Linked DNA regions of Homo sapiens. The gene in region 2 interacts genetically with the main gene of each other region. Each region holds a gene or a part of one and is shown on either strand. Other genes may lie near its edges.

Region 1 (3,655 bases), on a different chromosome or scaffold from region 2:
CTGACCAGTGCCCTAACATTCGTTGTTCCAACATTTTATGGCTCCCACTAACTCAAGTAATCAACAGCCAAAAAAAAAAACCCCTGTAATTTCATTAAACGTCACCAACATAGTTTGAAAAAAAATCCAATTTTATTTAAAATAGTAAATACTTCATGAATGTAATATATATGTTCCTTAATAGAAAGGAAGTAAAAATTTCCTTGGACTCACAAGGACTTTCTGAATGCAGTCATGATGTAGGATTTCTTCTTCCAACATAATTGTTTGTGTTCTTTTGTATTCAGCAAAGCAGCTTTAAGAATCAGATACAGACAAAGACAAACGAACCATATGGATGGAATTCAAATTGTAAGTTAACATTACTATCATAGTACCTGTCAGTGAGAACATGTCCTCTTATTGATGGCAGAATTTCACTGAGCTATCCATAGCTCTCAGCTGATTTTGCCTATGATCAATGGCATGCACATATGTAAGACTATTAATTCTTCAAAAAGTGCATGAATTAAATGGACAAAAATGAGAACAGAACCTACAAACCTCACTAACTCCATAATTTAATTGCCAGGCATGGTGGCTCACGCCTGTAATCCCAGCACTTCAGGAGGCCTAGGTGGGAGGATAACCTGAGGTCAGGAGTTTGAGACCAACCTGGTGAAACCCCATCTCTACTAAAAATACAAAAATTGGCCGGGTGTCCTGGCGGGCACCTGTAATCCCAGCTACTAGGGAGGCTGAGGCAGGAGAAACGCTTGAACTTGGGAGTTGGAGGTTGCAGTGAGCTGAGATCACACCACTGCACTCCAGCCTGGGCAACAGAGTGAGACTCCATCTAAAAAAAAAAAAAAAGTCCCAACAAATTAAAAAACTGTCACAGGGAGATGTAACAGATAAACCCAGGAATAAAGGCACTACATAGTTCCAGGCCTCACTCTACACGCACTAAAATTACTTCAAGATTTACACTATGAATTTTGATTTCTGTCTAGTAGAACACAAAAAGACAAAGGTAGATTATCAATATATGAAAATCAATAGCATTTTCTTGTATCAGCACTAATCTACTTAAAAAATAGTATACCATTCACAGTATTTTTATAAACTACAATATTTTACTCAAAGTCATAAGTGAAAGACCATTCCATGTTCTCAGATAAAATGTCCTAATATTATAAAGATATCAATTTTCCTCAAAATAAATCTGTAAGTCAAAGTTCTACTGGTATTGTTTTTAGAAACTCAAACTAACTCTAAAATACATAGGAAAGAATAAAAATACATAAATAGCTGAGCCAAACTTTGAAAATGGGCAAAGATGAGAGAAAGTGCTCTACCAGATATTTAACATCACTAGCTAATTTGGGAAATGCAAATTAAGACCACACTGAGATATCATCACACATCAGAACAGTTAAAAAAAAAAAAAATAGTGGCCGGGCGCAGTGGCTCACATCTATAATCCTAGCACTTTGGGAGGCTGAGGCGGGCAGATTGCCTGAGCTCAGGAGTTCGAGACCAGCTTGGGCAACATGGTAAAACCCCATCTCTACTAAAATGCAAAAAATTAACTAGGTGTGGTGGCATGCGCTTGTAGTCCCAGCTACTCGGGAGGCTGAGGCAGGAGAATTGCTTGAATCTGGGAGGCGGAGGTTGCACTGAGCCAAGATTGCGCCACTGCACTCCAGCCTGGGTGACAGAGCAAGACTCCATCTCCAAAAAAAAAAAAAAAAACAGTGACAGTATCAAATGCTAGTGGAAGACGATGCAAAGAAATGCAATCTCTCATACATTCCTGGTAGAAATGTAAAATGGTACAACCACTCCAGAAAACACTTTGGGAGTTACTTCAAAAACTAAACATACACTTACCATACCATCCAGCAACCATGTCCCTGGGCATTTATCCCCCAAAAAATGAAAATTTAAATCCATACGCACACACACACACAAAACTGTACAAGAATGTTCACAGCAGCTTTATCTGTAACAGCCAAAAATTAAAAACAGCCCAGATATGCAGGTGAATGGTTAAACTTGGATACATACGTACCATGGAATACTACTCAACAATTAAGAAGTACAAACTATTGATAAATGCAACAATTTGGATGAACCTCAAGAACTGTCTCATTCAACAATGTTGATGAATCTCAAGAACTGTCTCATTCAACAATTTGGATGAATCTCAATTTCAAAAGATTACATGCTATAGGATTCCATTTATATAGCACTCTGGTAATGACAAAATTATAGAGATAGAAACTGATTAAACTGATTAAGGGATGGTGAGGGTAAGGGAGGTGGATGAAACTAGAAAGAGGTAACATGAAGAAAATCTTTGTAGTGATAGAATAGTTCCATATCTTCTTCCTCTTTTTTTTTTTTTTTTTTTGAGACAGGGTCTTACTCTGTCCCAGGCTAGAGTGCAGTGGCATAATCACAGCTCACTGCAGCTTCAACCTTCCCAGGCTTAGGTGATCCTCCCACCTCAGCCCCCCAAGTAGCTGGGACTACAGGCATGCACAACCACACCAGACTAATTTTCGTATTTTTTGCCAGAGACGGGGTTTTGACATGTTGCTGGTCTCAAACTCCTGGGCTCAAGCAATCTGCCTACCTCAGCCTCCCAAAGTGCTGGGACTACGGGCATGGTCAACCACATCAGCCTAGCTCTGTATCTTGATTGCAGAGGTAGTTGCAGGAATCCACACAGGTGATAAAATGGCACAGAACTATACACAGGCATTGTACAAAATCAATTTATTGGTTTTGATACTGTACTACAGTGGTATAAATTGTAACTATTGAGGGAAGTTCCTTGGGTGAAGCTGCATAAAATGTAACCACTGGAGGAAACCAGACCTCTCTTTACTATTTGTGCAACTTCCTATGAACCTATAATTATATCAAAATAAAGTTAAAACAAAATAAATGGGAAGAGTTATTTATATAGGAGGAAAAAACATACTACTACAAAACCATAGAGTTAAAACAGTATAGTGTTAGAGCAAGAACAGACAAACCAAAGGAAAGGACTCAATATTCAGAGTATATATGAGCACTTAATACACAGTGTGACACCATATCTATGGGAAAAGGGAAGAAAGATGCCAGGAAAACTGGCACAGTACATGGAAAATAAACTGGATCACAAACTTGTGACACATAAAAAGTTAAACTCTGCATGTATTAAAGACCAATAAGTTTAAAAGAAAACTATGAATTAGCAGTACATAACATAGCAGAGTAACTTTGTGGCACAGCACTGGGGAAAGATTTCTTAAACAAAACCTCCAAAATACAACCATATAGCCAAAAGATTTTTTAATTTGATTATATCAAAATATAAGATTTCTGTTCAATGAAGAACATCATGAGAAAGATTACAGACAAATGACAGATTAGGAACAGATACACTTGTAATACTTAAATGATTAGTATCTATGGAATACAAGAAATGTCCGCAAATCAACAAGAAAGAACTGAAACCCCAAAATAAAAATGGGTGAAGGGATGAACAGGCAATTTCACAAACAAAAAATTAAAAAAGATAAAACACACATGAAGAAATACTCAGATTCGGCAGGGCACGCTGGCTCATGCCTGTAATCCCAGCACTTTGGGAGGCTGAGGCAGGCAGATCACAAGGTCA
Region 2 (5,448 bases):
AAGCCTTCTGTGTCTCGGCCCTGGGCCCAGTCTCTCAGGCCTCCCCGGGCCCCCCATACCGGCCCTCCTCCAGGGCCCTCTGGGGTTGGGGTGCTGAAGCCCTGCAAGGTTGGTGCCCCCCTCCACCCTAGGATGTGACTCCGGGCCATGTCCAGGGCACTGGTCACAGAAAGTGTGTCAGTTCTTCCCCGTGAGCTGTCCCTGCAGTGCCTGCCTTCCACTGTGAGTTGCAAGCTGGGCATTTCATGGTCGCTGTGGATCTGCTCCCATCCCACCTCCATCCACAGAGGGCTTAGAATTGCAGGGCGAGCCAGGCATGGTGACATGCACCTATGTTTCCAGCTACTTGGGAGGCGGAAGCAGGAGTATCCCTTGAGTCTGGGAGGTGGAGGCTGCAGTGAGCCGTGATGGTGCCACTGCACTCCAGCCTGGGTGGCAGAGCCAGACCCTGACTCACACACAAAAAAGAAAATAAATAGGGATGTCACACTGTCGGCGAGCCGGCCGACTCGGTGCTGGTCCAGGTGCTGGCTCCTGTTGGCAGGAAAACAAGAACAAGAGGCCTCACGAGTAATTCGTGGTCACAGCCACCTGGGGCTGAGAGGGATGAGGGGACGAGGGGGCCTGCAGAGAGTGGGTGGCCCCAGGGCTCTGCTGCAGGTGCAGGTGCAGGGGCGGGTGCGTGGCCCTCCTCTAGGGCCTTGTTCCTGAGTGTTGATGCCTCCAGGGTGTCGAGTCCGGGCAGGGCCCTCCATCTGGAAGCACAGCCCATGGAGGCTGCTTCTCCAGATGGGCGGTGAGTGGGCCGGGGCCTGAAACCCCATCCTGGGTACCTCCCCCAGAGCTCCTGGGCCTGAGGAAGCTGAGCGGTGAAATGTGGGAGTGAGGGTGTCCTCCTCTGCTGGGCGGGGCTGGTGGTCCTAAGCACAGGACTTAGGAACATCCCAGACACACACAGTGAGCCCTGGGTGTGGAGCGGCCATGCAATGTGTCTGTGGCGACCCGCTGACCGCCCCCTCGCCCTGTCCTGCAGCACAGCCATGACAGTGCAGATCCTGCTGAAGCTGGACCGCCTGGACCTCGCCCGGTGAGCCCTCCTGCCCCTCTCCACCCGCACTGAGCCACAGCCCAGAGCGTCACAGCCCAGAGCGTCACAGCCCAGAGCGTCTGTGGTGCTGTCATTACTCTTGTTGTCTTTCCTTTCCATGGGGGTGGCTTGCTGTCGTTCAGCCCTTCCCTGCAGTATGTTGCCAGGGAGGAGGGCCATGGCTCTCTGTGCCTCAGTTTCTCTCTATGCAGTGGGTGGCAGGCCTCTCCCACAGGGTGAGGGTGGGCTTCATGGAGGGAGAGTGGAGGTTGTGCCTGGAGCAACATGTTACTTGACCAGCTTGTAACTGTGCCGTGGGGCTGGCGGGGCCTGCACGTGGCATCACCAGGTCGGAGGCCATGGCTGGGGGTCCAGGACTCCCCTGCTGCCGTTTCCAAAGCCCTTGCCTCAGAGTTGTTCACACTGTAGTTCCGTTGCCCTTCCCTGCGTTCCATCCTCCATGGAGTGAGTCTCTCCTGAGCTCTACCTTGTGGTGGCCACCCTGGGGGGCCATAGCTGGCCCCAGTCCCACCTTCCCAGGGCCTGCACGTGGTCAGACGGGCAGGGTGGCTCGGGCACTTAGTCGTGGGGTATGAGCATGCAGTGGAGCACAAAGCAGGGGCCATCCCCAGGCTCCGGTGGGCCCCAAGTGGGGACAAGGCAGGGATGGCCAGGCCAGGGCCCTCGGCCACTCAGCCCCTCTGTCATCTGTCCCCGCCCCAGGAAGGAGCTGAAGAGAATGCAGGACCTGGACGAGGATGCCACCCTCACCCAGCTCGCCACTGCCTGGGTCAGCCTGGCCACGGTGAGCCCTAGGCCATGAGGTGGGTGGGCATTGCGGGCACCTGGCTGAGCAGGGTCTGTGGGCACCCCCACCTGTGCGTAGGCTGCTGGCCACTCCAGTGGGGCTCCAGGATCAGGCCGTGGCCCCTGCCAGCCTGGCATAACTCAGCCTTGACTCCATTCCGGGCTTCTCACAGCCAAGCGACTTGGCCAGAGCCAGAGCGAAGAGATGGTGGGGGCGGGGACGGGTTCCTGAGCCTGAGGCACAGGGGTACTCGAGGGTCTGGGTTGGCCTGGCAGGCCCTCCTCCCCTCAGGGCTTCCTGGGGTTTTCTGCGACTCAGCTTTGCTCTCCAGGGTCCTGGTCGCCAGCCAGGGACGGAGTTCAGTGTTCCCATAGCAGCGGTGGAGATGTCCTCAGCTCCCAGGCCTGGGCACCTCCGCCCGGCAACAGCCCCTCTCCTGGTTTCTGGGACTTGGCCCCCTTCTGAGCCACTCTTTTGTGTGGGCCTATTAAAATGTGCTTCCTGGCTGGTCGCAGTGGCTCACGCCTGTAATCCCAGCACTTCGGGAGGCCGAGGCGGGTGGATCATGTGAGGTTGGGAGTTCTAGACCAGCCTGACCAACATGGAGAAACCCCATCTTTACCAAAAATACAAAATTAGCTGGGCTTGGTGCCATGCACCTGTAAACCCAGCTACTCAGGAGGCTGAGGCAGGAGAATCGCTTGAACCCGGGAGGTGGAGGTTGCGGTGAGCCAAGATCGCGCCAGTGCACTCCTGCCTGAGCAACAAGAGTGAAACTCTGAGAAAGAAAAAAAAATGTGCTCCCCGTCCCTGCCCGCCACGGGGCTGAAGCCTCACCCAGACAGACTTCCAGTGACCGTCTAGTATGGTAGGACAGGCCCCGGCAGACCTATCGGGTAGTTTGGGCTGTTTTCACTGCCTGCCTTGGCCTCAGGCTCCCCCTGCAAGTGTTCTGCTGTTCTGAGCAAGTGGACAGGTCAGGGCTGCTGGTCACAGAGCTGACTCCTCCTCCTCTGACGTGCTCAGTGACCCAGTGGTCCCCACTCAGACCCTGAGCCAGCCACCTGTGCACTGAGGCCTTGGAAGCCCCAGATTCCACCTCTGTGTACTCAGCACTCCGGGAGCTGGGTGGGAGGTGGGGCAGGAGGCGGCCACGAGTCTTTAGGCCCCATCAGCAGAGTACAAGTTACGGGTAGTCCCCATGGCGGAGTGGCTGTGCCTTGAACCGGGCACACCAGATTCGTCTCTGTGCAGTGCTGGAGTCCCCCCCGCTAGGGGAGGGGGCTGGCGGGGGAAGGGCCGGGCAGCAGGGGCACAGGCAATGATGCGGGACCCTCCCTGCAGGGTGGTGAGAAGCTGCAGGATGCCTACTACATCTTCCAGGAGATGGCTGACAAGTGCTCGCCCACCCTGCTGCTGCTCAATGGGCAGGCGGCCTGCCACATGGCCCAGGGCCGCTGGGAGGCCGCTGAGGGCCTGCTGCAGGAGGCGCTAGACAAGGTAGGCACAAGCCTGTCCCAGAGTGGGGACGGAGGGAAGGCCAGGCGGCCAGAGGGTGGGGTCAGGGCGGACAGAAACAAGTGTAGCAGAGACCCCCTGGGTGTGCGTGTGGCCCCACAGGGCTTCTAAGGCCCAGTCAGCAGCGAGATCCACAAAGCAGGGATCTCACCTGCAAAGAAATCCAGATTCCGGCCTCACAGAAATGGGGCATCTGGGCAGCCTGGGCCTCAGTGGTCTGAGCCGTCCTTGTTGTCACCTCAGCTGCCTGGCCCGGGACCTGCAAGTGGGACCCCTCACCTGAGTACATACTCAGTATTGGAGAGACACTCCCCGTACTTATGTAGGGGAGAGTGTGCTGTGGACAGGAGCTCTTCGTTGAGAGAGCGCTGCCTGCCCAGGGTGGCTGCAGTCATCTCCTGCCTGATGTCTGCAGTCTTTTCTTCCTTCCTTCCTTCCTTCCTTCCTTCCTTCCTTCCTTCCTTCCTTCCTTCCTTCTTTCCCTTCCTTCCTTCCTTCCTTTCCTTCCTTTCCTTCCTTTCCTTCCTTTCCTTTCCTTCCTTTCCTTCCTTTCCTTCCTTTCCTTTCTTCTTTTTTTTTTTTTTTGAGATGGAGTCTCACTCTGTCACCCAGGCTGCAGTGCAGTGGTGTGATCTCAGCTCAATGCAACCTCCGCCTCCTGGGTTCAAGTGATTCTTTTGCCTCAGCCTCCCAAGTAGCTGGGATTACAGGCGGCTGCCACCACGCCTGGCTAATTTTTGTATTTTTAGTAGAGACGGGGTTTTGCCATGTTGGTCAGGCTGGTCTCAAACTCCTGACCTCAGGTGATCCACCCGCCTCAGCCTCCCAAAGTGCTGGGATTATAGGCGTGAGCCACCACGCCTGGCCATCTGCAGTCTTTATGAAGAGTTTATGTTATGTTAAATTAAAAATATATATATATTTTGTAAAGACGGGGTTGTTCTTGCTGTGTTGCCCAGGTTGGTCTCGAACTCCTGGCCTCAAGTGATCGTCCCACCTCAGCCTCCCAAAGCATTAGGATTATAGGTGTGAGCCACCATGCTTGGTGGATTTTTTTTTTTTTTTTTTTTGAGATGGAGTCTTGCTCTGTCGCCCAGGCTGGAGTGCAGTGGTGTGATCTCGGCTCACTGCAAGCTCTGCCTCCTGGGTTCATGCCATTCTCCTGCCTCAGCCTCCCGAGTAGCTGGGACTACAGGCGCCCACCACCATGCCCAGCTAATTTTTTGTATTTTTAGTAGAGATGGGGTTTTGCTGTGTTAGCCAGGATGGTCTCAATCTCCTGACCTCATGATGCTGCCCACCTTGGACTCCCAAAGTACTGGATTACAGGCGTGAGCCACTGTGCCCAGCCTGGATTATTATTTTTATAATCAGAAAGGACATCAAAGCTTTTTCCATTTTGGAGAAACGAATTTTGGGGGGTTTTTTGTTTGTTTTTTGAAACGGTATGCCACCATGCGTGGCTAATTTTTGTATTTTTTGTTAGAAATGGGGTCTCACTGTGTTGTCCAGGTTAGTCTTGAACTCCTGGGCTCAAACAATTCTCACCCTCCTTGGCCTTCTAAAGTGCTGGGATGATAGACATGCGCCAGTGCGCCCAGCTGAGAAACAGTTTTAATCTAGTGACAAACACTGGTGAAGCCCTCCTCCCTGTCTGACTTTCCAGGGGCTGAGTTATCATCAGAAAGTTGTTTGCAGAGCGGGGCTGGCCAAGGGGTATCAGGCTGGCCCCATCACAGGCCGGGTACTGCTCCTCCTGAGCAGGGTCCATCTTTAGCTCTGAGCAGTCAGGGCTAGTCAGGAACTCCCAGCCTGATGTGCAATCTCAGACAGGCTGTGTGTCCCTCGCTGCCCCAGGGGCAAGACTGGCGCCCTCCTCCACCACCCTGCCCCTCCCTGCCACCTGAGAACACTTGGATGCATGTTGTGTTCATGGCCGCATCCTCTGGGGGCTTTTGTTACACCTCTCAGGTGACACGTTCCGTGACTCACCAGTTAGATGACTCCCTTCTGTCCTTGTCTCTTGAAACACCAC

Evidence for each region.
Region 1: changes in COPE (region 2) and WDR7 together harm fitness more than expected from each alone (negative genetic interaction), as found in Homo sapiens cells (one large-scale study listed by BioGRID).

Annotation. Positions count from the first base shown.
Region 1 is NC_000018.10:56,654,359-56,658,013, reverse strand, and holds part of WDR7 (WD repeat-containing protein 7), read right to left. Parts: intron 1-3,655.
Region 2 is NC_000019.10:18,901,215-18,906,662, reverse strand, and holds part of COPE (coatomer subunit epsilon), read left to right. Parts: intron 1-727; coding exon of another isoform or gene 728-796; intron 797-1,033; coding exon 1,034-1,087; intron 1,088-1,810; coding exon 1,811-1,892; intron 1,893-3,239; coding exon 3,240-3,395; intron 3,396-5,448. UniProt on the Homo sapiens protein: The coatomer is a cytosolic protein complex that binds to dilysine motifs and reversibly associates with Golgi non-clathrin-coated vesicles, which further mediate biosynthetic protein transport from the ER, via the Golgi up to the trans Golgi network.